Linked DNA regions of Homo sapiens. The protein of the gene in region 1 interacts with the protein of each later gene in a biochemical or structural test. Each region holds a gene or a part of one and is shown on either strand. Other genes may lie near its edges.

The links.
Region 2: the proteins of FYN (region 1) and FASLG form a complex in vitro, tested with the Homo sapiens proteins (4 studies listed by BioGRID and IntAct, with this or other methods).
Region 3: of the proteins of FYN (region 1) and SNCA, one has a biochemical effect on the other in vitro, tested with the Homo sapiens proteins (3 studies listed by BioGRID).
Region 4: the proteins of FYN (region 1) and KHDRBS1 form a complex in vitro, tested with the Homo sapiens proteins (4 studies listed by BioGRID and IntAct, with this or other methods).

What each region holds. Positions count from the first base shown.
Region 1 is NC_000006.12:111,695,450-111,702,477, forward strand, and holds part of FYN (tyrosine-protein kinase Fyn), read right to left. Parts: intron 4,820-7,028; coding exon 4,655-4,819; intron 4,222-4,654; coding exon of another isoform or gene 4,066-4,221; intron 1,008-4,065; coding exon 828-1,007; intron 1-827. UniProt on the Homo sapiens protein: Non-receptor tyrosine-protein kinase that plays a role in many biological processes including regulation of cell growth and survival, cell adhesion, integrin-mediated signaling, cytoskeletal remodeling, cell motility, immune response and axon guidance.
Region 2 is NC_000001.11:172,655,006-172,662,108, reverse strand, and holds the start of FASLG (tumor necrosis factor ligand superfamily member 6), read right to left. Parts: upstream 3,007-7,103; 5' UTR 2,908-3,006; coding exon 2,560-2,907; intron 2,015-2,559; coding exon 1,969-2,014; intron 1-1,968. UniProt on the Homo sapiens protein: Cytokine that binds to TNFRSF6/FAS, a receptor that transduces the apoptotic signal into cells. Involved in cytotoxic T-cell-mediated apoptosis, natural killer cell-mediated apoptosis and in T-cell development.
Region 3 is NC_000004.12:89,729,136-89,736,163, reverse strand, and holds part of SNCA (alpha-synuclein), read left to right. Parts: intron 1-6,886; coding exon 6,887-6,970; intron 6,971-7,028. UniProt on the Homo sapiens protein: Neuronal protein that plays several roles in synaptic activity such as regulation of synaptic vesicle trafficking and subsequent neurotransmitter release.
Region 4 is NC_000001.11:32,023,857-32,030,884, reverse strand, and holds part of KHDRBS1 (KH domain-containing, RNA-binding, signal transduction-associated protein 1), read right to left. Parts: intron 588-7,028; coding exon 463-587; intron 1-462. UniProt on the Homo sapiens protein: Recruited and tyrosine phosphorylated by several receptor systems, for example the T-cell, leptin and insulin receptors. Once phosphorylated, functions as an adapter protein in signal transduction cascades by binding to SH2 and SH3 domain-containing proteins.

The DNA.
Region 1 (7,028 bases):
ACACCAAAGCAGGGATAATCATTTGCAGAAGCTGGAGGCTTATGATGGTCATCAGTGATATTTTATGCTTTAATCACAAAGTTATTTACAAAATAACCCTGGATACAAAGGACAAACCGTTTGCCAGAAAAAAAAATTCCCATTAAATTTTAAAAGAAAGTACATGGAAAAGAAAAATTACACTGGTATCCTCTGATAAACAATGTATTGCCTTTTAAGGCTGTTTCTTGTTTGGTTCATCTATTTTTCCAAAACAAAATGATCTCTGGCCTTATCCCTAACAATGCTGGTTTGATTAGGAAGACAGAGGGGTTGTAGGGGAGAGAATGTGAGAATAAATGTGGTCTCTGAAAGCATGTAATTTCATCGCCTGACGTTTAAGAAGAGAGCTGGAAATAAAAAAGATGTTGAAATGATGGAGACTAAACTTAGCTTAGAGACCAGTGTCTGATATTAATTGTTTAGCCCTGCAAAAAGGAAATGTAACAAAAGCTACTACATTCAAAATAACAGCAAACTATCATAACCCTCCGTACCACCCTGATATTAAAAATGAATGTTTTAATTATGGAGAGGAGCTTGAATTTCTGACACACATAACATGTAAAAAGTATTTGGCATTTCATAAGGATTTGGGGTGGGGTAAACGCAAGGTTAGTCTGTTTTAAAAAATGTTTTCATTAACGAGCACATAACTGGTGGTTCCTAATGGGAATACTTGACCCAGGCAGAAACTAGAAAAGTAGCAAGTAGGAAACTTCCATTTCTCTCCCCTAAACAACCCCTTAAGGCACTGTGAGCTGGAGACAGGAGAGGTGTTGCCCAACCTTTGTTCATATACTCGGTGACGATGTAGATGGGCTCCTCAGACACCACTGCATAGAGCTGGACCAGCTTGTCGTGCTTCAGCTTCTTCATGATCTGCGCTTCCTCAAGGAATGATTCGGGGGACATTGTGCCTGGTTTAAGAGTCTTTATGGCTACTTTTGTGTTTCCATTCCAGGTACCTACAAACATCCCAGAATATGAAGTCAAACCAAAGATCTTCTTTTGATGGAAAAAGGTTTTGACCACCAGCTATTTGCATAAGATTAGATTTTAAATTTAAAACACTTAATACAGTTTTTGTTGAACAAAGACATTCAATTGCAAGGACTCTGTCAAGTATTTTAACAGAAAAAATGAGTTTATTTGTGGTTATGGCTAAGATGGCTATATTAAGATTTATAACTCATTAAAATTTTTTTAAATTTTGATATATTACCACTCTCTCTTTTTTTGGCTCAGTCATATGATTACACATTTATACCAAAAGCTCTGCACCATACAGTGATGAAAGTCCAGGGGTTGGAACAGGCCTGGCCATCTAATAGCTGTCCCTTAGGGAGTACAGTGTGCATGGAAGAAATTAGATTATTTAAGTTTATGGGGTGTGCCATTTAAAAATATGGCACCACATGAGGATGTCTGGAAATTACCTCTAGACTTTCAATGTCTGCAATGGACAAGTTACTTGACTGAGTCCTTGCACAGGTGTGCCAAGCATGCTGATAAGCACTGGCAAGGAGCTCACAGTCTGCTTGCCAATACTTCAACAAGGTAAGGCAAATTTCCTCAGCTTTACTGATGGCTAGCCACAAGAACAATGGCTTCTGTCAGGTAGGTAGACAGGGGAAATTAAACAGCAGCTGAGAGGGAACAGAAATATTTAAATTTAGCATGTTAAAAAAAAATCTAGCAAATCTGAAGGCAAGGCCTGGATTATGATTGTCCTCAGTTACCTCATCTGTAAAATATAGGAATGGAACTGGATTATCTTTTGGGTCTCTTTCAGCCCCAGCATTCAAAAAACAAAACCATACCTAGGTTCTTTGTGTATTCCATTATTAGACCTATGATGCTTAAGAATAACTTTATAAAGGGGAAGAAATCTGCTAATTTAGATTATTTTCTATTTGAAAAAGAAGACTGGTTTAAATTAAGATTTTTATATTTAATATAACTGACTTTGGAATTTAAGGATTCTGTAAATTGGAGTTCTTATTATCCTGTTAAAGACATGGTTCATACAATTACAACATGCAACCTACAAAATATAAATTATGAAAAAACAAGTGGCTTAAAGAAAAGTTCATTTAAACTTCATAAAATATCTGCCCACTAAGCATTCATGGGAAATTTGACAATTTATAAGTGATCTTTGCTATTTAAGAGTCAGCACCCAAAATTCTAAATACATTAAGATCTTCCTCTGTAATACAAACTTCGTCAATTACACAGACATCCATCCCAATTCTGATGGGCATGTTGTCTTGTGTTTATTGGAAAACAAAATGTGAACAGTATATGTAATGATTTAAAGTTGATATTTGTAAAATTTGAAAATAAATTTTCTAATAGGGTCCAATTCTCTGTGATTGTGTGAGTAATTTGACTAAAATCCTCTATTATTAGAGGGTGAATGAGGAAGAAGGAGGTCATATATTTTACGATACTTGAGATTAAGTCCAGAGAGAGATGGACACAATAATGTGGATTTATTAAACTAGCTAACTCATACATATATATGTGTATGTCTGTCTACTACCTATTTATCCACCTAACATACCTACATACATCTTTGTAGTACTTATCATTTGCTGGGCTATGTTTTAAGTGCTTTAACTGTATTAACTCTTTTTTTTTCTTTTCTTGAGACGGAGTTTCGCTTTTGTTGCCCAGGCTGGAGTGCAATGGTGCAATGGTGCGATCTCCGCTCACCGCAACCTCCACCTCCCAGGTTCAAGTGATTCTCCTGCCTCAGCCTCCTGAGTAGCTGGGATTACAGGCATGCACCACCATGCCCGGCTAATTTTGTATTTTTAGTAGAGGCAGGGTTTCTCCATGCTGGTCAGGCTGGTCTCAAACTCCTGACCTCAGGTGATCTGCCTGCCTTGGCCTCCCAAAGTGCTGGGATTACAGGTGTGAGCCACTGTGCCCGGCCACCTGTATTAACTCTTTTAATGCAGACCACACCTAAAGATCTATACCCACACGTAGCAAAGGGTACTGATCGATATTGTTTTTAATGAGTTCTGAGGAAGGAAGATAGAGGATTCCATAAGTATTAATATTGTTTTACTGAAACATGTTTTTGAGTGGGGCCTAAACCCATGAATTGTTTCTAAGCAAAGCTGTAACTGACCCAAAAGGGCTATAAAAGAAATTACAAAGGCCCAGTGCAGCCAGCCTTATCAATGACAATCAAATAAAGAGAAGTATGTATCTCTACTGAATATCTACTATCTGCAAGGGACTTTAAACATATTAACCCATGTAATCCTAAAAATAATCCTTTAAATAAGTATCATTCCAGCCGGGCGTGGTGGCTCACGCCTGTAATCCCAGCACTTTGGGAGGATGAAGCTGGCAGACCACCAGGTCAGGAGATCGAGACCATTCTGGCCAACATGGTGAAACTCCGTCTCTACTAAAAATACAAAAATTAGCTGGGCGTGGTGGCAGGCACCTGTAATCCCAGCTACTCGGGAGGCTGAGGCAGGAGAATCACTCGAACCTGGGAGGTGGAGGTTGCAGTGAGCCAATATCGCGCCATTGCACTCCAGCCTAGTGATAGAGCAAGACTCCGTCTCAACAACAACAAAAAGGTATCATTCCAATTTTACAGATGAAAAAACTGAGGCTTAAAGGAGTTAAATATGCCCCTTGTTCGTGGTTAATTAGCTAGTAAGGATTCAAACCCAGGCCCATTGAGCAAAACGTCCATGGTCTTTCTTATGGCTGCCCATATACAGTATCTTACCTTCCCATTTCTTAGGAAGAGGAAACACCAGATTCATAGTGTACTGGTTTCCTGTTCTGCGGGTGCCTTAATTAACCACATGAAGTAGGACAGATGAGCACAGCAAGGTATCAGCATATTCTGAAAATCTGGATGGCCTGTGCCCGTCTAGTTATCCAGGTTAAGTGTCTTTGTCCCAACGGCTGTGTGTGCATTTTTGTTCAAAACCATCCTTTTAATCGGCTTTGAGATGCAGCCAAAACAAAATGTGCCCTCTGCCTTACCAAGCCACACTTCAGCGAAACACCCCTGACCCAGCTTCTTCTCCAGACACAACGAACGACGTGCAACTTCCCAAGCATCTTTAGCCAATCCAGAAGTTTGTGGGGTACAACTCGATGCAATCACAGTTAAGTTAAAACACAAACCATCAGCTTTCTCTACAGGAAAGGGAATTAATAAAGAAAACACAGTCCTTATAATCCATAATTATGCATGCACTAGGAAAGATGGAAGGTGACTTGCCCGTTAGGATGACACTCAACAAATATTTGCTTTTGGAAATGAAGAGCAAGATATTTTATGGCAGCTGGAACATTCCTTGGACCATTTGCTGGTTTATGAATTGAGAGTCATGTAATAGTACAACTTGAGCCATTTGCCAATTTTGCCCACTTACTATCTTTTTTTTTTTTTTTTTTTTTTTTTAGGAATTCCAGAATGTTAAAACCAAAACTGAAATTATTATTCCCCACTATTAGTAATTCAAACTTTCTTCCCGGTCACGCAGTCTTTATTTTCACCTTCCATCTTTGGTGTTTGGGATCTTCCAAACGGGGAAGCTAATAAGAGAGTAATTGAGTCTCAGCATACCCATCCATACTTCCCCAAACTGCCCATTTCCCAGTCTCTTGATCAACTGCAGGGATTCTCGAGGGATTTCCCAGACATCTTTGGTTTTGACAGACAGATCGGTAAGCCTTGGCATCCCTTTGTGACAGGGAACTACTAGGCGGCAGCAGAGACCTGCAGCTCTCTCTGATGGAGCAGGGCAGGGGCAGGAGAGGGAGAGAAGAGCAGAACACATGTAATGACAACACTCATAAGTGTAAACCCACACTAGCGGCGCACAGTGCTCCTCAAACAGTGCTACTACACCAGCAGACGACCACACACATCGTGGAACACTAGCAGCACACAGCGCTCCTTAAACAGCGCTACACCAGCAGACGACCACACACACGGTGGAAGATCAGACGCCACACACGGAAACATTTTCATTGGAGGTAGAAGAGAGGACGTTTTAAATTTAGACTACTCCATGAGCCCAGGTACGATACAGTCTATACATAGACATACACGCAGACTGCTTTGGTTTCTGTACTCACTGAGGAAGAAAAACGTTTTCAGCTCAACGTGCTAATAACATGTTTTTGGGAATGCTGAAAATATCCTTACTAATTTCAAACAGTGGTTTTGGATTAAAGAATGTCAATATGACTGTTCTTCCCCACCTTTAGTATCTAGATTACCCAGGGGATTAGGGATCTCTCTATATGACTATACTTAAAATTATAACTTTAGTGGAGGATCCTTCTATAGGACATTAAACTGTTATAAACTAGTAAGGTTGAAGATTATAACTGGTGGGGAAAAAAAGAAGTAACTTTTTTTAGTGATTTCTTCGCTTTCTAACTGATTCCATTCCACCATGTCAGATACTCCTGGGCTGCTTCTTGGATATTTTCCATTAAAAAAAAAAAAACAACTTTTTAACAGTCTTCGACGTATAATTTAGGTGTCTGGTTTGAAAGGAGAAAGAATGGAAACTAAAATTCACAGAAATTCAAGATGTGAAAGAATGTATTCTTTATAAAAAAAAGAAGAAAGGAAAAAGTAGTTAACACTCGGAGGTTTTTATTCTTTCTTTGTCTTCTTTCCTTCTTTCTTTCTCTTCTTTTTTAAAAAGAATATAACCTTTTAGAATCTGGCAGTGCTAAGGGGAACTTAAATGCCAAGTAAAAATCAGTCAGGCGAAAAAAGGTAACAAAGAATAAGAAATCAGGGAGTGACAAAAGCTGACAGAGCCTGCCTTGTGAGGTGGACAGACCTCCCGCTCCCTCCTGGCAGCCCCCGGACCCAGGGAAAGCAGATGTGCTGCTGGGCTGTAACTTGCTTTTTACTCCTTTCTTTTTGATGGAATCAGGCTCTGAGATGTTTAGGTAGGAAATTATTTATGTGTCAGCATTTCAAAGGCATTTTATTGTGTGAGAGAGAAAGAGGGAAGAGGGAAAGCCAATATAAAAACAAGTCTAACGTGAGATGGATTTTTTTTCCCCGAGATTAAAAAAAGTGTCTATTGTTCATATCCCCTCTTTCCTTCCAGCTTTACAATGTTATTAAGGTGCCCTTTCGAACACAGTATTTTCAAATGATCCAAACCCTGGGGATCCTGCTGATGTTTGGCTGTAATGAAATATATTTCAGCATTTGAAAAATCCTTACAACATGCAGGCATTTTGAGTATATCACTTAAGCTCAGGGAGATATTTTGTTCCATTTCTCCCAAATGTTTCATTAGAATCCACATAAACCGAGTTAGCCAATGCCATAATCAACTAGTACTGCAAGTGCTGTTAATATTTTCTATTGTTCATTAGTGCAAGGGATCAACAGACATTTCTTATTGTCATTTTCGAAAGATTGCTTTTTCATGCCAAAAATTATACATACATATTTCAATGATTGTGCACAGAGCAATAGTAGAGGTAAATCATATACTATTTTTGAGTCTTGCCTTTGTCCTGGAGAACAATAGAAAATGGAGAAATGGGTCACACAAAAAAATATCTCTAGGCTTAATAGGATATAGACATGTGTCTATACATGTGCACCTATATCTATAGGCACATGTGAACATGTATTATATAGTGGCATATAATACTTGCTAATCTAGGAAAGAAAGCAATCATTTTAACAATTGCACATAAAACCAGTCTTTGATAAAATGTATAAACTGCATATCTAATAATTATATGTTTTCAGAAAGAACAAAATAATGGTGATATCTGGGTGTTAGGACAGAAACTGATGTACATTATAAAAGTTTAATTTAACACAATAGACATAATAGATCTAAGAGCTGTGGGTTGTGTAAGTCTAAGCCTAGTTAGGAAACAGCAGTATTGGTGGGGAACATGATAAATGGCTTGCATGAGAATGAAATGTACGTGCAGCTATTCCTGCA
Region 2 (7,103 bases), on another chromosome or scaffold:
TTAGTTGCTGCTTATTATGTGCTTGTCTGAATACACCATAATGTATATAACTAATCTCGTATGAGGCATTCAAGTTTCTTCTGAATTATTTATTATAAATAGGCTCATAAGGAAGTAATGAACATCCTTATATATAAATCTTCGGGCACATCTCTGATTATTTTCTTAAGATAAATTCTTAGCGATAGGATTACAACGTAAACTACTAGTTACAAGCTTTTGCTATGTATTTCTAAAGCGCTCTTCAAAAAAAGTTATAGCAATTTACATGTATACTGGCTGAAACTAATGTTTGCACAGGCACTTTTCTCTCAAATCTTTGTCAGTCTGGGTTTTTTTTTAATCTTTATTAATTTGATGAAAATTGGTATTCCCTATTTTTAATTTGCATCTCTTTTCTTATTAGTAAAGTTACTGATTTGATTTCCATGTGATGATTTACCAATTTCTGGTTTATTTGGGTTGATCTAGAGAACATAATTGCTTACTGGGGTAGATGGATCTGACTCACCTGATCATTTGACTTTTAATCACTAAATTGACTCCAGAGAGTGGGTGAAAGATGAATAATTAGATACCTATCAGACCAGGCACATTCCACAGATTTTCAAAATGATCTTATTTCAGACGTCCTCCAGAGGCTTTACTTTTCTATCAAATATTTCCACTCTGCTTGTGTACATATGGACTTTCTAACATTTAAGGATTAGGACACAGAAGCAGGGGCCAGAGCATCCCAACAGTGGCTCATATAAGAACTTAACAGTCTAGGATAGTAGACAGGCGACTGGGTCATGTGCAGTAGCCACATCCGGAGAAACTGGAACTTGCTTCACTTAATAGATGGCCAGTGCTGCCTTCTTCTTTATTCTGAGTTTCTAAGGATGAGATCTACCTATAGTCTTTGCAGAGGTATCCTGCTTTTCATCTATTTCTTATTCCATGCTCACTACAGAGAGACAGGAGTTTCCCTCCTTCATGAGGCACCAGTCCAGTACTGGAAAGCCCTGTAGGTGACAAGGCATCAAGAGCCTGTGTTCCTTCTAGCCCCAATGGCATACCAGTGGTCTTGGGCATATTCACCTAATCCATCTGGTATTTTGTTTCTCTTCCAAAAAATGAAATGGCTGGACTAGATATATTCTAAGCTTCCTTCCACCTCTAAAAATTCAATGAATCTCATTGTAAATCTAAATCTAAAATTTCAATGAATCTTAGACTAGTGAAGCACACTGTAAAATCTATCTGTACAGAGCTTGCACAACTATGCCCTGAAATTTCATGAGATCAGTGTTCAACCTATCATCTTCTTGCCCTAGCTCCCATACAAAGGATTTTCCTTTGTGATCAAGGGTACCTCATGACTGCCTCTGTGGGTGAAGCTGAACATCCTTTGAATGATGGCTGAAGTCTTCCCTTAAGCTTCTCAGTGACTTCAAGAAAAACCATTCTAATGTGGGGAATTGATTATCCATGTTTTAAAAGCTTACATCCTATAAAACATATTGTAAATAAAGCTTCAATGTAATCTCTTTAGGGCATTTAAAAGAGGAAAGGACGTTTCTCAGAAACATCTGTCTCTGCCTTCATTTCGCCTTCTCTTCCCAGGAGTTACAGCCACTGGCGTGTGTGCCAGGACCAGGATGTCTGTGGAAGGGGACAGGCCTGGAGCCACTTCTCAGGGGGCAAAGGTCCAGGGTTGTATATGTGTGTCTCTTTCCAAAGTCAAGTGGAAGTGATTTTGAATTGTGTGCAGTGCTCAGCTATATTGATTGTGAGCAATTCAATTCACTTCACATTTTTAAAGCAGCTCAAGGAATCATAGACCAGAGATTCTGAATTAGCCAGAATTCCTCTTATAGTGTACAGAAACCAAAGTGTGGGACAGAATTTAAGGCATTCCATTAACATAGTTCTGTGCTGAGGATCATCTTTGGGAACTCAATGTACATGCGAAAAAAGACTCACCTATTTGCTTCTCCAAAGATGATGCTGTGTGCATCTGGCTGGTAGACTAGTAAAACAGAAAGAGAAAAGATGTATAATAAAAATAAAATTCTTTAAGCAAAAGAGGCAGAATCGTCAAATAAACCAAGCCCTGGAAAGAGAATCCAAATACCTCAGAAGTTCTGCTAACTTGGGCTTTGGCCAAGCAATTTTGCCTCACTGTCCCTCAGTTTTGTGATTTGGAATCGTACCAATTTTCAAGATTTAGTTTGGTCATCTGAACAAATTTACTTCCAAGCAAAACTTAAAAGTTTTGTTTGTTTGTTTTTTACTCCTTAAATCAATAGGTATGAGGCAGTAAGTGGTTCAACAGACTGAGTTGACAACTGAGGAAAGACAAACTGTTGGGCTCTGATTCTTTACAAAGTAAAAAATATTCCCTTCACCCCTATGAGCCTCCATTTCTCTGTCTATAGAATAGAATAACTAGAACAACCCATTTCTAAGAAAAAAAAAAAAAGGATTGAAAAGCACTTTGCAAGCCAGGCAGTGGGCCCTCCATCCCCTTATGCCTGGTGCCTCCAGGGCACAGCAGTCTGCCGGCAGGCTTACCTCTCGGAGTTCTGCCAGCTCCTTCTGTAGGTGGAAGAGCTGAAACATCCCCAGGCCCAATCCTACCAAGGCAACCAGAACCATGAAAAACATCACAAGGAGACACAGGCCTGTGCTGTGGTTCCCTCTCTTCTTCAGGGGTGGCAGCGGTAGTGGAGGCAGTGGTGGCGGCGGCGGCGGAGGTGGTAGTGGTGGCGGTGGCGGTGGTGGTGGTGGCCTCCTTTGACCAGGCCTTCTGGGCACAGAGGTTGGACAGGGAAGAACTGTGCCTGGAGGGGCCCAGGGAGAGCTGGCACTGCTGTCCACCCAGTAGATCTGGGGATATGGGTAATTGAAGGGCTGCTGCATGGCAGCTGGTGAGTCAGGCCAGCCCCAGCAAACGGTTTTACTTCTTCTCAGTCCTGTAGAGGCTGAGGTGTCAAGGACGGGACCCTGTTGCTGACTGCTCAAGAGGAGGCAAGCTGGATCTCTCTTATAGAGTTTCCATAGCTAAGGGAAACACCTCTGTCTTTCTCTTTCTCTATCTCTCTCTCTCTGATTCTGCTTCTCAAAGAAACACCCACTCACTTTGCAGCTGAAGCTGAGAAGCCTCAAGAAGCTCAGAGCAAACCCCTGGAAGTTTCCGCCCACAATTTTCTGATAACAGCCTTCAAGGCCTCAGTTGCTGTCGCTGTGCTACCCAAACAGGTTAGTAGGCTATGCTCACCTTCCTGGGATCCTGCAGAGCAGGTCAGCATGGGGGTATAGCCCTGTTAGTGTGAACTGCTCCCAGCTACAGGAGAATGGTCAGTGGGGCTATAATTTTATGAATTATAATTGCATGCTTTTTTATACATTATAATTGTATAATTTTAAGAATTCTACCATATACACAACCAAAAAACTATTTAAAAATCCCAAAATAACTCTAACAAAAATTGTTCAGAACCGTATTTTTTAAACTATAAAAATTTTACTGAAAATGGCTCTGAGGGGAGAGACCATGGAGTCATGGCCAGAGAAGTCACTCCCACATTTTAGTTTTTGCAGGAGGAAAACATCTGTTGCCATCATCTCTTCCCCACACACAACTACCATTTACCCTGACCTGCCGATCACCATAATTTACAGGTTAAAAACCTGCTACACCCACTTTAGAAATTAGATCAGAGGCTGCAAACCAGTGGAACCCACAGAGCTGCTTTGTATTTCGCAATGTTTTCATTTTCATTGTTTGCCCAGTTTATTTATTTACTTATTTATTTAAATAGAGACAGAGTCTCACTCTGTCACCCAGGCTGGAGTGCAGTGGTGCTATCGTAGTTAACTGCAGCCTCAAACTCCTGGGCTCAAGCAATCCTCTTGCCTTGGCCTCCTGAGTAGCTGGGATTATAGGCATAAGTCACTACACCTGACTAATTTATTCTTTTTTTTTTTTGTACAGATGGGGACTTGCTATGTTGCCCAGGCTTGTCTCAAACTCCTAGCTTCAAGACATCCTCCTGCCTCAGTTTCCCAAAGTGCTGGAATTACAGGCATGAGCCACTGCACTGAGCCCAACTGACCACTTTTAATATCAACATTAAAAATATTTTAAAATATATATATTAAATACACATTAAAATACATATTTCTATTCTGTTTTGAAATATCAGAATATCAGACACCCTCGAGGCCATCTCTGCAAACCCAATCAGTGGGAAGTATGTAGCAGCTGCCCCTGAGAATGAGAGACAGGAGTTCTGGGTCACCCAGCCTCCACCACTGGCCTGTGTCTCACACACCACCTCACTATCTGAAAGGCCTGCCTGGTCCCTGCCAACATTTCTGTGTGCTGCCCCTGTTATGGTTGCCAGATGAAATACATGGTGCCCAGTTAAATTTGAATTTCAGATAAATAATACATTATTTTTAGGACAAGTAGGTCTTAAACATGTCCAAACATGGAATATACTAAACAATTATTCATCATATATCTGACATTCAAATCTAACTCTGTGTCCTATTTCTTTGTTTTGCTTTTTTTTTTTTTTTTTTTTTTTTGGTAGTTGTTGTTGTTGTTTAAAGCTGGCCTCTCTACTTGGGCTCATCTCACCATTTCCTCTGGCCTCACATACCATTTATATGCCAATAACTTCCAAGTAGTTAGCTTCAGTCCTAATCATTCTCCAATAGAAGCCAAATAAATCCCCCATAAATCAAAATTTTTCATTTTTTTCATGTTTATTACTTTTCAAATTTCGTTAGTTTTTATATCATGCTTTGGGATTTCCATTACTATCATTCAGGCCCACTCACCTGTACCACACCAACCCCAAGGGTACTATTTCTCTGATACATTCTGCCCATCCCACCCCATCCCCAACCCTGTACAACCCCTTTCTCCTGAGGCCACTCTTTCTGGTGGCAACTTCATCTCCTTTCTTTTCCTCTCCCCCAACGTTTAACTGGTCACCCAGGACTGTCGCTTTTACCTGAGACCTGTTCCTTACCCTCCCCTCAGTGTACTGCCCCCCTGCCCCATCCTCGCTACTCCCATTTTTCTTACTGCTGTTGCCTGGGGTCAGACTTTATCTCTCACTTGAAATACTGCAATAATGCCCTAACAGGTGCCCTGCCACCGACCTTTCCCAAGCCCAAATCACCCAGTAAAATGCTATAAGAAAAATGCTTTTTAAAAAACAAACCTAATGATCTCACTTCCCTGCCTTCTGTTGGAAGGTTTGATTCAGGAGCAAGGCAAGCTTCTTACCGTTACCCAAGGCTCTTTAGCGTCAGCTCCTACTGCCTCCTTACCAGGCACTCCTGCTCACATCCCACTCTCCACTCTTAAACAGTGCAAGGGATGAGACTAGCAAGACAGTGCACGAGTTAACGAGCTTTTGAACTCACATGTGACTTTATTCATCGTTATGAATTCAACTAACTTTAAATTTCATAATCAGAAATTGTAATTTTAAGAATTCTACCATATAGACAACAAAAAAACTATTTGAAAATCCCAAAATAACTGTAAGAAAAATTGTCCAGAACCATATATATGTATTTTTTATTTTTTTGAGATTGAGTCTTACTCTGTCGCCAGGCTGGCACGCAATGGCGTGATCTCAGCTCACTGCAACATCTGCCTCCTGGGTTCAAGTGATTCTCCTGCCTTAGCCTCCCGAGTAGCTGGGACTACAGGCACATGCCACCACACACAGCTAATTTTTGTATTTTTAGTAGAGATGGGGTTTCACCATGTTGGCCAGGATGGTCTCGATCTCTTGACCTCGTGATCTGCCCGCCTCAGCCTCCCAAAGTGCTGGGATTACAGGCGTGAGCCACCGTGCATGGCCCATATCTTTTAAATTATAAAAATTCTACTGAAAATGTCAAAGATTCAAATAAGTGGGAAAAATACACCATATCCTGGATGGGGAGGTGGTGTTGCATGATGGTTGGGAGTGGGTGGTTCTGGAGTTAAACTATGTGACTTCCAATCCCAGCTCTTCTGCTCATTAACTGTGTGAACTGGACAGGTCACCTTCCCTCCTCGGTGCCACAGTTTTCTCATTTATAAAAATAAGCATGATCATAATAGTACTTGCTTTACGGGGGTTGGGAGGATTAAATGAGTCAAAGCATTTGATACACTTAGAATAGTCCCTAGCACCAAGGTAGGCACTCAAAAGATGTTGTAAATTTAGTGAATCTTTCCCCAAATAATTCATCTGTAGACTTAATATAATCGACCTTCTTCCATTAAGGACAAACAAAGTGGAGAGAGGGAGAGAGGTTGCAGGGGAAAGTGCAAAGTCCACGTTTGACATCCAGTATCTCTCTGAGATCCTACCCTGAACTGATGAGCCTCTCCATTTCAGACTAGTACCTCTCGATTTTTCTATCTCAAACTCCCACAGGAACTTCCAGCACTGTCCAATAAGAATTATGCTGTATTTTTACATCTCCTTCTTCCCTGCTGCTTCTGTTGATTCATTCTGCAACAGAAGAAATTAGAAGACCATACCTGCCCCCAACTCTCCTGCTATCCTCCAGGCATAGAGAGAATCTGAACTGAAATAGAGTCAAAGAGAGCATCTTTAAACACTCATATTGATCTTCAGTAATGCCACCAAACATCACAGGTTGGCAAAGTCATGGAAAAATAAAACAACCCTATGTACAATAACAGGGACCCATTATGTTTTGGGGTATTTCCAAACCTTATTAATAAGGAGAAATAATTGTTACAAGTAGATCTTAGTTCTGTGAATGCTAAAGAAAATAATATTTGCCTTTGAGAGATGAACTTAATAAATAAATCAAAGGCTGGTGGCTCCCACAGGCTGGGAATTTAAATGGAAGAGCTTTGCTAAGTCTTGCTCTACCCTCCCCAATTACACCTGCAGAATCTCTGATTCTGGAACCAGAGGTTCCTTGAGGATAGACAAAGGAGAAATATTCAGAGCTGACAATCTCTTTGAGGAGGAGGGGGGGGCTTACGAGCCATAGAGATTCAAAGGGACCTGGGTGACACTTGGGAGCAAATTTATATGGAGGACAAAATAGGAGAAACCACCTTA
Region 3 (7,028 bases), on another chromosome or scaffold:
CAGAACATGCCAATTTCTATGGCTTCTCATGTGACAGAATATACTTACTAGGATGCAATTAAATACTCCTCAGAGTATGTAAACAATAAATGTAATCATTACATTATTTTTATATTGTTCTTTCTTATGCATAATAGTAAGACTGAAAATATAGTGTTATTTCTGAAATATGCATATTGTTTTGCTTTTGATGATTAAATAACATTGTCCAAAGTTTTAGGTTTTTTGAAATCTTATATTTTTTAACAAAATATCTAGCCTTTCCAAAACAAGACCTCAATAATTCGTTTAAGACCCAGAGTTGTTCCTCTCCACATAGATCTCTTAAAAAGGCAGAGGATTTATGACCTCAAGAGAAATCAGAGTATCCAAAGTTTGCTTTAATTCAATGTTTTAAAAATAAAATTCCTTAGATTTTATCAAAAATTGAGATTAGTTTGATTTTGAATCAGATGCCCTTTGCTCCCCACCCCAAAATGGCATTATGAGCAGACTAGGAATTGATAATAGAAAATTGAACATATGAAATATATCTTTACCTTGCTTTTTAACAAGGTATTCATGTCTATCGCCTTCATTTTTAAGTGCATCAATAAAATACATGGTAATTCTCTTAGTGAAATATACTATCTACACTATGTACACACTCCCCTGTCTGAGGTAGAGAAGTAGAGAATATTCACATTTTTGAAACGTCTATGCTATTTTTATTTAAATACGAGTTCTGGGCTTGATTTCATTTTGGAACACGGGTGTGTGCTTAAGTTGAACCTTTTTTTCCTCTTAAGTCAAAGTTCTTTTTTAGTTTCTTCTTTTATCTTTTTGGCTACTATCTCTCTCCTTCATCCTCCTGGTGTGAGTTGTTGAGTGAAGGTATTAATTCCATTATTTGAGGCTAAGTGACATTGTTCAATAATGCAGCAAAACAATGGTTCTACCCAAAATATCTTCAAGTGTAAAAGCAGTGGGCAAAAGAGAAAGTGCGCTTCTGCTGCTTTGAATGTTTAAGGCTGTGAAAGTTGATCACACAAATTGGGTCATTCTTGTTATACCCAACTAAAACAATCAAGAAGCCTGGGAGGAAAAGCATTCAAGAAACATCACATTGCTCCAAAAGTGTAATTTTCTACAAGTCCGCATGCTGAGGCTGCCTGTTGTAACCTGGGACCAATTTTTTCTGTAACTGCTGAAAAAACTTGCTGCAGCTCTAGGACTAATTTTGCCCACCACTGTCACTCACCAATTGAAGCTTACTAGCTCCCCAGAACCTTTCTAGTGCCAATGAACTTTCTCAAAGAGCAGCGTGTATCATTTCTCTTTTTCAGAACACCTCCAACCTCCTCTTTGTTCTTTGGGTATACCAAAGACCAACCAGCCTTGAATTTCAATTTTTCTTCCCACATAAAAGTTTTAATTTAGAAATGTATCTCTACATTTCTAACTTTGACAAAGCATAGATACCAGATAATTGATGAAACCTTGCTATTTTAACGATCACCATGGATTACTTCCCAGTGTCTTCAGATAACCCTCAACATTTGCCAACATTTGATGGACTTCAAAATGAGCATATCTTTTTTAAAAAAAATTATTCACACTGACAGCAAGTACATTGGTATACTCTATATTAAATTATACCACAGGGTTTACAAACAATTGGTGATGTCGGGCAGTGGTTTCCAAGGAACATACTTAACAAGACACTCACAAGGCCCTACAAACCTGCATTTTTAACAAGGGCCCTAGATGATTCTAGAAGAGTGTGGTTTGGAAAGCAATTTTTGCCTTTATTATGTGTCATTTTAAATATATTTAAAATTAAAGTTATAAGTCATAGAATTGAATAAAGATAATTTCCTTACAGAAAGTATTACTAGGTATCTAAATACAATATGGTTCAAAACAGGAAATTTAAAAAGATTATGTAAATTCTGTAGTTGTATTCCTAAAGACAGTAGCTGAAATTTTTTCCTACTTCTCCTTGTATCACTTCCCTTTTCCTTCACTTTCACTTCCCTGGAATTGTACTTCCCAATAAGCTATTAGCAGTGAAGGAAGCTTCGTCTCATGATCTGTTTTATAGAGCACTTCAGCTGGGACGAGTACGAAATGATAATCAGTTATATCAGCTATTCAACCCTACAGGTTTATTTAAAAAGAACTTGAATAAGCTTTTTAGGGAGAAAGAGGTCAGTCTCAGCCATTTCTGTTTCCTAATATAGCTTTTAAGTCTTTCCTTATTAGCAATGAGGGTCATTCCATTGTAATTTTTTGATAACCATTTTTCTTTCTGTGTGTCAAATGCAGATATAAGATACTGAACTGAGTCTATTTCACTGTTCGTAAAACAATCCCATTTGAAAAAAAAAAGTCTACAGCTATTCCAGGGATAGGGCCTAGTAGAGAGAGAATAAAAGGTATTTTCTTACTATGTCTCTATATCCTACCCTGTAGGTTCTCTTATTAAGCATACAGGCATATACCAAAATCCAGACGTTTTTCTCATTTATTTTATTGCCCTAACATATTCTGGGTTAATATAATATCATAATGAAAATTTGAGAAAAAATTGATTTTTTCAAAAGTGTTTAACATTTGTTATATTGGTAGTTTTTTTTCTTGTTTGTGGTAAAAATAAATAGAAGGTGCACTTCACACCTTCAAGTATGATTATATTTTGAAAACAAGTCATGAATACTCATAAAATGCAAATTTTAATGTTCTTTTTTTGTTACAGCCAAACTATATTAGGCACAGTTGTAAATTGGAGTTGAAATTTAATATTTCTTTATAGATAACAATGTTTTTAGAAATAGGTTTATGAAACAGTAAATATACAGGTATAGGGATAAAATTGTGTCTGATGGTCATATGAAGTGTTTGTTGTTATATTCTCCTTGGAATAGCTGCCAAATATTTTAGTATGCTTAAAATCTACGAATGTGATAGAGTCAACAAATTTAGATCACATATTCAGAAAAACATAGTTAGAGAACTAACTATTGAAATGAGCATACAGCAGTCTTCCTTTATCTACAGGGATACATTCTGAAACCCCCACTAGGACACCTGAAATTGCGGATAGTAGCAAACCCTACATATACTGTTTTTTCCAATGCTTATGTACCTATGAAAAAGTTTAATTTATAAACTAGGCACAGTAAGAGATTAACAACAATAACTAATAACAAAAGAGAACAATTATAATAATATACTGTAATAAAAGTTATGTGGGTATGGTCTCGCTTTCTCTTTCCCTCTCTCTCTGTCTCTAAATATCTTAGTATTTTGGGGTTGCAATTGGTGGTGGGCAACTGAAACCATGGAAAACAAAACCACGGATAAAAGGAGACTACTGTATATACTTTTTAAAACTGATGAAATATTAAACTCATGTTTCTTCTATATCCCACCCATTTCCCCCACCCAAACCTAGATAGATATCTTATTTGATCTGTAAACATTTAATTAATTTGTAAAAGTTAAGAACTTTTTGAAGTAAAACTGCAATATATCATCACACCTAAAGAAATAAACAATAATTCTTAAATATCAAGTCAGTGTTCAAATTTCCCCAACTACCTCATATGTGTTTTCCATTTGCTTATGTAGGGTTCCCAATGAGAATGAAATAAAGTTCTTAGGTTGCAATTGGCTAATGCTCTCTCACTTCTACTTTAAGCGGCAGGTTCCCACTAACTTCTTTTTAGTTGCAATTTACTTATTGAAATTAGACGTATTCTTTGTCTTGTGTAGTTTCTCACAGTGCAAAATTTGCTGATTGTAGCCACTGTTGTAAGCAATGAACATGTTTTTCACCACCTTATATTTGCTGTAAGTTGTCAGTGATAGTTAAATGTTAATCAAATTCAAATTCGGATCACGTAGGGCTTTTCTTTTTTTGTTTTCTTTTTCTATTTATATATTTATTTATTTATTTTGAGACGGAGTCTCACTCCGTCACCAGGCTGGAGTGCAATGGTGTGATCTGGGCTCACTGCAATCTCCACCTCCCGGGTTCAAGTGATTCCCCTGGCTCAGTCTCCCGAGTAGCTGGGACTATAGGAGAACCACCACGCCCGGCTAACTTTTTGTATTTTAGTAGAGATGGGGTTTCACCATGTTGGCCAGGATGCTATAGATCTCCTGACCTCACCGATCATGTAGGACTTCAATTGTCGAACAAACGAACCTTTAATAGCAGTTACACCATTAGGATGACCTGATCCAACATCGAGGTCGTAAACCCTATTGTCGATTTGGACTCTAGAATAGGATTGTGCTGTCATCCCTAGTGTAGCTTGTTCCCACTTGATGAAGTTATTGGATCAGTGAACAATAGCCCACTTAAACTAGTACAGTCTTAGTTTAAGATGGTGATGTGTATGTACTTCCATCAGAGGGCACATAATACAGTAAATCCTCACTTAACTTCATCAATAGTTTCTGGAAACTGTGACTTGAAGCAAAACAACATATAACAAAACCAGTTTTACCATTGGCTAATTGATATAAGCAAGAATTAAGTCCTATGGCAAATTTCTGGACACAAAAACACCATCAAACTCCTAAATAAAGATAAATCACTTCTGACATTAAACATTGAAATTAATGTGAGCTATATATACGTTTAAGAAAGATTAATACAAACAAGTCAAATAACTTACCTAATTATTTCGGTGGAGGCCGCAGGTGGTTGGAGCCTATCCTGGCAGCTCAGGGAGCAATATGGGAACCCACCCCGGACAGGACGCTGTTCCATTACTGCAGGGTGCTCTTGTACACACCCACTCACCCAGGCTGGAACCATGCAGACACACACACTCACCTAACCTACACATCTGTGTACATCCTTCAAAGTTCAGCCAAATAACATATAAACAAATCCAGTAATATCCATCAGTCTTAGTTCCGTCATAACAACTCCTTTTTGATCATCAAACAACAAACAGGGTAGGTCTGCCATATTTACTTGTCTGGTCCATATCAAAATTTTCTAACAAATTATATTAGAAAATCAAATCTCTGTCAGTTTCAAAATCATGGAAAAAAATTTGCCTTATTTCCCTTATACTTGGATATCCTAACAGTAATCTAAATATTAATGAGAAAGTTAATGATGTCGTTTCCTTCTCCCTGTTGTAAAGAAGGTTTTGCTGTCCCGTTTGATCACTAAGACTAATTGACACTCAGAAAAAGCATAGGAAACTTCTCAGCATCACAAAAGCTCTGTCATCTAGAGAAGCTAGGACTTGAGCTCAAGTCCTGTGACATGGAAGGCCTTGTGCCTAGCCATCCTGCAGCAGAGGCGTATCTACCAAGAAGTGAAACACTACGAAAACAGTATGTTTACTCCACATTTTAAAGTGAGGTAGTTTGGGGTGGTTCATATTTTATTTAATTTATATATTATTTGGATTTTTTTTAGTTTATAAAAAGGGCATTGGCAAGGGCAGAATGATCTGTAAGCTTCTCTGCCCACCTACCATAAGCATGATCTTTAGTGTGACCTTTTCTTACTGTTAGCCATTTTCTTATACTTCTGCGTCCCTGTCAGTCACTTCCATGTGAAGACATGGGGAAGCTTTTTTACATCAGACATGTTGTTGAAAATCAGCCGCGTTGGCTGAGGGATTATTTGATCTCTTTCTCCAAGTCCCTTTAGGCTCACATTGCCTCTCTGTTCTTTGAATTTTCACTTACCTTTATCTTCTTATAATTACTTTGCTGAAATAAATGCAAAGCAACAAAAGGTATTTAGTGAAGAATACCAACAAAGCCATGACCATTTCAGGCTGAGTTTTGTAGTATTCTTTGTCTAGGAAGAGATACCTAGAAAAATTTTCTGACCATGTATTTGATTATTTTCCTTCAATATGTATAGTCTCAGTCTTCAAATTTCAGAAAAGAATTTGTTTCTTCATTGTCATTTAAAATTAATGTGTTAAATATGTATGCTTTTACATTATAAGTGGTTATAAAAGTTAAACACTTAGAAAAAAAGTCAAAATAACATACATACTATCCAACAAAATAACTTTCATATTTTATTGTGTTTTCTTCCAAACTTTTTACCTTTGCGTCTGAATTCTGTGTAGGTTGTATCTATAATATAGACAACACTTTATAGCCTGCTAAATATTATACCATAAATAGGTAGTTGTTACATAATTCTCAGGTAATAGTAATACAGGTCTTTATCATAATCTACTGAGTAGTTGAATGATAATTTTTTTTAAGACAAGGTCTCCCTCTGTCACCCAGGCTAGAATGCAGTGGCATGCACATGGCTCACTGTAGCCTCTACCTCCCAGGCTCAAGTGATCCTCCTGCCTCAGCCTCCCAAGTGGCTGGGACTGTAGGCATGTGCCACCATGCCCAGCTATTTATTTGTATTTTTAGTAGAGATGGGGTTTCATTGTAACAGCCCAGGCTGGTCTTGAACTCCTGGACTCAAATGATCCACCTGCCTCAGCCTCCCAAAGTGCTGAAATCACAGGAGTGAACCACTGCACCCAGCAATAATTTTTTAACTCTTCATTATTCATTGAACATTTAGTTAACAATTCTAAAAATTTTGTTTCCTGCTGTCATTGATCTTGTGAAAAATATCTTTGGACTATAGCTGTGGATTATTTCCTAAATAGTAAATTACTTGAGCAAAAAGTTTACATACTTTGAGGGTTGATAACCCATGTTGCCGCAATGTTTCCCCGGAGGCATTGTGGAGTTTAGAATGCCAGTAGTAATATTAAGGTGTGCCATTTTCAAGATCCGTGGCCAACATCCCTATATGTAAGATTTTTCCAAAACATGGTTCTGATTTTTAAAAGTGAAAAATGCTACTTCATCATGTTCTTTTTGTGCTTCTTACTTTAAATATTAGAATGAAGAAGGAGCCCCACAGGAAGGAATTCTGGAAGATATGCCTGTGGATCCTGACAATGAGGCTTATGAAATGCCTTCTGAGGTAGGAGTCCAAGCTGAATCTTTCTAACAAGACAGTACCAAAAACCTGTCATTGTCAC
Region 4 (7,028 bases), on another chromosome or scaffold:
GATAAACTAAATGTAACTAAATGCTTTCCTAAAAAAAAAAAAAGGAAGAAAAAAAGCATTTACTTAAAAGTAAACTTTTAGTAAGAAAATAAAATTAACTTCAACCAATTGAGGATTCATATTATATTTCCTTTTATTTAGATTTCAGGTTAGTCTTTTGACAAAGAGCAACTCTTCAGGTTTTAATTTTTTTTTCTTTGAACTTGTAGCCTGAGCAATCATTTGAGAAAGAAACTTTTTGATAATAAAAAGATGATTATATTTCCTTCCTGGCTATAGCTATGTTATTAGTTAAGAACTTAGATATTTCAACTCTCAGTAACAGGTACTACAAGCATGAAAGAGAAGCTTCACAGGCTTAAGTTTCTAAAGCATCACAATCCCCAGGAGTCTTTATTATAGCCCATGACTCTCTCATAACTATAAAGATAACTCAAAGATCCAAAGCACTTTTTGCCTTACCTTGGGATACTGCTTGACAGGTATCAGCACTCGCTCTTTCAGTTTCATGTTCTTATGAGAAAATAAATCCAAGTAATTCTCCTCATCATCCTTTTTTGAGTCTCCTTTCTGAATCTTCTCAATTTCTGAATAGGAAAAACAATTTATTTTTGCCCTGGTAAATAAATGCAAATTTTGAAGTCTGCTTAAAGCAATAACATGGAATACCATATAGTGAAACCAAATAGTTCACACAAATGTGCCAATTTCAGAAAGAAACTAGCTGAAAGCACTAAAGCTATATGAAGTTGACTAGAAAGCCCAAAGCCTGCTTCTAATAAAAGAAGTGTACTCTTCCACCCTCACCTGAAGCCATGACAACAGAGACATTTAAATGTTTCTTAAATCAATTTAACAAAATTAATTGGGTGAGATGGGGGAAAGGAGAATAAAGAAACAAACAAAAAAATCAAAATCTGCATCAAGACAAAGTATAATCTTACCTTGAAAAAAACAAAAGTAAATAATCTAAATATACAATGGATAGTTCCATTAAAGTTCCACGGTGACATTAGTACTCTAGATACTAGTCCTTAAGAGTCTGAAAGACCTTATTCTTACTCTGCTACTCACTAGTCGTGTGACCTAAGTTAATAAAATACGTAGATATGCCTAATTAAGGCCAATTTTTCATAAAGTACTTAATATATCGTTACCGTTATCTAGCCCAAATTCAGCCAATGCCTAAATGATACAAAATGCACAAGGTACTTTTTTTTCTTTTTTGAAATGGAGTTTCGCTCTTTTTGTCCAGGTTGGAGTGCAATGGCATGATCTCGGCTCACTGCAACCTCTGCCTCCTGGGTTCAAGCAATTCTTCTGCCTCAGCCTCCCAAGTAGCTGGGATTACAGGTGTGTGCCACCATGCCCGGCTAATTTTGTATCTTTAGTAGAGAAGGGTTTTCTCCATGTTGGTCAGGCTGGTCTCGAACTCCCGACCTCAGGTGATCCGCCTGCCTCAGCCTCCCAAAGTGCTGGGATTACAGGCGTGAGCCACCGCGCCCAGCCACCAGGTACTTTTTAAAAAAACATTTTATTGAAGTATAACTGATATGTAAAAAGTTATACATAATTAATGTATACAATGATGAGTGTGGAGATAAGTATACACCCATGAAACCATCACCACCATCATGGGCACAGACATATCCATCATCACCTAAAAGTACTTTCAATTCGCGGGTTAAGACAGTTTCATTAGATAGAAACTTGGCATACAAAAAGATTTCCTACCATTAAGGAACTTCATTCATTGAGTGACTGCAAGTGTTTGAGTGCTTCCTATAGTATGGAGAGGCAGATGAAGGGAGGGCTATAATAGGTACAATCATTAACCACTATGGAGGACTTAATAAGAGCCAGACATCTGTCTTGCAAAGCACAGGAGATACAATAGAGCGAGTCAGACTGGTCTCTTGTCTTCACTGTTTATATACTGGAGTTCCCAGACTATAGAGGTGGCAATGAAGTAAAGTACTATAACAGGAGTTCTAATAGAGATGAGGGCAGAGTGCCCAAGGATGAGTAGCAACTGAAAGCTTATATGATCCACTGAGAGTAGTTAAAAAAAAAAAAAATAGGCCAGGTGCGGTGGCTCACGCTTGTAATCCCAGCACTTTGGGAGGCTGAGGCAGGAGGATCACAAGGTCTGGAAATCGAGACCATCCTGGCTAACACGGTGAAACCCCATCTCTACTAAAAATACAAAAAAAATTTAGCCGGGCGTGGCGGTGGGCACCTGTAGTCCCAGCTACTAGGGAGGCTGGGGCAGGAGAATGGCATGAACCCAGGAGGCAGAGCTTGCAGTGAGCCGAGATCGCGCCACTGCACTCCAGCCTGGGCGACAGAGCGAGACTCTGTCTCAAAAAAAAAAAAAAAAAAAAGTATATATAGTATATATATATACGTGTATATATATATACTCCCTAAAATCAGTGGAACATTCTAAATATCAGAGAATAGTCTGTAATAGAATATTACATAACATTCCCATCTTCTATAATTTTAAGGCGGGGGTTCTCAAACTTCTTCATGCATCACAATCACCTAGAAGAGGGCTTATTAAACTAGATTGCTGGGCTTCAAAGCCAGTCTGGGATTTGTGTTAGGAATTTGCATTTCCAACAAGTTCCCAGGTAATTCTGATATTGCTGGTCCAGGGACCATACTTTGAAAACCATTGGCTTGAAGTATAAAGACACCCTACCTCAAACACGTTCCACAAATCTATACCCTTAACAGTTTTTATTTATTAATTATTATTTTTTGAGACAAAGTCTCGCTCTGTCACCCAGGTTGGAGCGCAGTGGTGCAATCTCTGCTCACTGGAACCTCTGCTTCCCGGGTTCAAGCGATTCTCCTGCCTCAGCCTTCCGAGTAGCTGGAACTACAGGCATGCGCCACTATGCCCGGCTAATTTTTTTCCCTATTTTTAGTAGAGATGGGGTTTCACCATGTTGGCTGGGCTGGTCTCGAACTCCTGACTTCAGATGATCCACTCGCCTCGGCCTCCCAAAGTGCTGGGATTACAGATGTGAGCCACCGTACTGGCCTAACAGTTTTTAAAATAAATATTTAGAGAGGTGCAGCTGTGAAATATATAGACGAAGAAAAATAACTTTGACTCTGACATGCCTTAGAGAATTTAGAATTTCAGACTGAATGCTTGTTTGTTAAAAAGCCTAATTTCAGATGCTATACTATACCATGAACTAATAGACACATACTTCCTGGTTTTCTGACAATTAAAATTGCTGATGAATTGTAAATATCCTTAATTAAAAACCTTTACTCCTATGAGAAGAACTGTAAATGACAGTGCTCTTCACAATCCTGTTTCAGTGCTTGGAATAGAAAACAAATTTGACCTTACAGTTAACAGAGTAATGCTTCATTCAACAGTCTACTTGTGAGGGTAATCCTAACCCTAACCCTTACTGTTTGGTGGCAGATCCTGACCTCTACTTCTTTTCCCCTACTGCTAATATACTTTTTCTGATCAATCTTTTTGAGCCTACTGTACCTGACTACACCACTTTCTAAGTTCTCAGACTGGAAAACTTAGTTATTCAATCCTCAAAGTCCTAGAAGAACAAAGATGCCATAATTCTGATCTGAGAACATCACCAAGGAGCTTTTAATAATGTGGAACAGGCCAGGAGAGGTGGCTCATGCCTGTAATCCCAGCACGTTGGGAGGCCAAGGTGGGCAAATCACCTGAGGTCAGGAGTTCGAGACCAGCCTGGCCAACGTGGTGAAACTCCATCTCTACTAAAAAAATATATACATAGACCGGGCGCGTTGGCTCACGCCTGTAATCCCAGCAGTTTGGGAGGCTGAGGTGGGCGGATCACCTGAGGTCAAAAATTCGAGACCAGCTTGGTCAACATGGGGAAACCCCGTCTCTACTAAAAATATAAAAATTAGCCAGGCGTGGTGGTGTGCACCTGTAATCCCAGCTACCGAGGAGGCTGAGGGAGGAGAATCGCTGGAACCCGGGAGGCAGAGGCTGCAGTGAGCTCAGATTGCGCCACTGCACTCCAGCTTGGGCGATAGGGCAAGACTCCATCACAACAACAAAAAAGAATGTGGAACAAATTAGATACTTCATTTTATCTATGTCGCTTTGTGCTTCCGAGGGCTACCATTGAGTTAGACCTTTCAGCTGTATTTTATACCACTTTCCAGAAACCTTGGTCAGTGCAAGACGATTCAAAGTCTGTTCATCTGCTATACTCCTACAAGAAGGTGTGTTTATATGCAATGTAATGCACTCTGTGAATTTAAGGCCTTTCATTTTTTCATTTCTTAAAGACCAGTGTGATAGTATAAGACCTTTCTATAACATGGATTCTTCTATTTTTGAACTACTCAGATCTTAGAATCCTTCTGTCCAATTATTTCACAACTTTTTAAAGAATAGCAGTGGCCAGGCATGGTGGCTCACACTTGTAATCTCAGCATTTGGGGAAGCTGAGGCAGAAGGATCACTGGAGCCCAGGAGTTTGGGACCAGAGCGGGCAACATAGTGAGACCCCTTCTCTATAAAAAATAACAAATTAGTCAGGCATGGTGGTATGCGCCTGTGGTCCCAGCTATTTGGGAGGCTGAGGCAGGAGGATAAGCAGTTGGAGGCTGTAGTGAGCCAAGATCATGCCACTGCATTCCAGCCTGGGTGACAGAGTAAGGCCCTGTCTCAAAAAAGCAAAGGAAAGCATTTTTAGAGAATTCAGAGAAGGATCATTTAAATAAAACAGAGGGTTGAAAAGAGAATCAGAATTTTAACCTACAAAGCAAAGGACTGGTTGGGCACAGTGGCACATGCGCTTGTAATCCCAGTGCTTTGGGAGGCTGAAGCAGGATGACTGCTTTGAGCCCAGGAGCTTGAGACCAGCTTGGGCAACACAGCGAGACCCTGTCTCTACCAAAAATAAATAAATAAATAAATAAATAAATATATATATATATTTAAATTAGCTGGGTGTAGTGGTACCTGCCTATTATCCTACCTACTCAGGAGGCTGTGGTGGGAAGATCGCTTGAGCCCAAGAGTTCAAGGCTGCAGTGAACTATGATGACTGTGCAACTGCACTCCAGCTTGGGTATCGAAGGGAGAGAGGAGGGGAGAGGGGAGAAAGGGAGGAAGGAAGGAGGGAAGGGAGGGAGGGAAGAAGGGAGGGGGCAGGAAGGGAGGCAGGGAGGGGATGAAGGGAGAGGGAGAGGGAAGAAAAGGAAGCAAGCAGAAGACTAAGAAGCTACTCGAGCTTTCAAGAAGGGTGGAGGGGGCCAGGCGCTGTGGCTCATGCCTGTAATTCCAGCACTTTGGGAGGCTGAGGCGGGTGGATCACCTGAGGTCAGGAGTTCGAGACCAGCCTGACCAATACAGTGAAACCCCATCTCTATTAAAAGTACAAAAATGAGCTGGGCATGGTGGCGTGTGCCTGTAGTCCCAACTGTTTGGGAGGCTGAGACAGAAGAATTGCTTGAACCCGGGAGGCGGAGGTCACAGTGAGCTGAGATCGTGCCACTGCACTCTAGCCTGGGTGACAGAGCGAGACTCTGTCTCAAAAAAAAAAAAAAAAAAAAAAAAAAGGAGGAGCCGAATTTTTTTTTTTTTTTTGAGATAGGGTCTCACTCTGTCACCCAGGCTGGAATGAGTGGCACAATAATGGCTCACTGTAGCCTCAACCTCCTGGGTTCAGGCGATCCTCCCACCTCAGCACCCCCAGTAGGTGCAACCATAGGCGCGTGCCACCATGCCTGGCTAATTTTTTTTATTTGTAGAGATGGGGTCTCCCTATTTTGCCCAGGTTGGTCTTGAACTCCTGGGCTCAAATGATCCTTCCACTTCGGCCTCCCAAAGTGCTGGGATTATAGGCGTGACCTACTATGCTCCCCCCGCCTTTTTTTTTGTTTGTTTTAAAGAGATGGGTTCTCTACTGCCTAGGCTGAAGCATAGTGACACCATCATAGTTCACTGCAGCCTCGAACTCCTGAGCTCAAGTGATCCTCCCACCTCAGCCTCCCCAGTAGCTAGGACTAAAGGTGCGTGCCACCTTACCCAGGTAGGGCTGAATATTTATTTGATGCCTACTATATATCAAATACCATAGAACTATTACCTCATTAATCCTCAAAAATAACTCAGTGAACTGAGTTACTTACATCTGAGGCAACAAAAACTCAAAGAGGTTAAATAACTATCTCTAGGTCATAAAATTGTTAAAGTAACAGAACAAGAATTAAAAACCCACGCCTGGCTGGGCACAGGGGCTCACATCTATAATCCCAGAACTTTGGGAGGCCGAGGTGGGAGGATTGCTTGAGCCCAGGAACTTGAGACCTGCCTGGGCAACAGAGTGAGATCCCATCTTTACTAAAATTAAAAAAAAAAAAAATAAATTAAATTAGCTCAGTGTGGTGGCGTACAACTGTTGTCCCAGTTACTAGAGAGGCTGAGGCAGGACGATCACTTGAGCCCAGGAGTTGGAGGCTGTGGTGAGCCATAATGGGCGCCACTGCATTCCAGCTTGGGTGACAGAACAAGACCCTGTCTCTAAAAAAAAATTAATAAAAAATTTTAGAAAACCCCCAAACTCAGGCCTTTAGGCCTTTTCTGACTTTTTTTTTTTGAAACGAAGTCTCACTCTGTCGCCCAGGCTGGAGTGCAGTGGCACAATCTCAGCTCACTGCAACCTCTGCCTCCCAGGTTCAAGCAATTCTCCCTACCTCAGCCTCCTGAGTAGCTGGGATTACAAGCATCTGCCACCACGCCCAGCTAAATTTTGTATTTTTAGTAGAAAAAAGGTTTCACCATGTTGGCCAGGCTGGTCTTCAACTCCTGATCTCAGGTGATCCACCCACCTTGGCCTCCCAAAGTGCTGGAATTACAGGCGTGAGCCACCGCGCCAGGCCTCTAACTTCTAATTTCATGCTTTTCCTATTGTCTCTTGATGAGTGTGTGTTTGTGGGGGGCACACTTTATTTAAGCAAGGAAGAGCTGACTTTTATAAAATTTTAAGTACAAT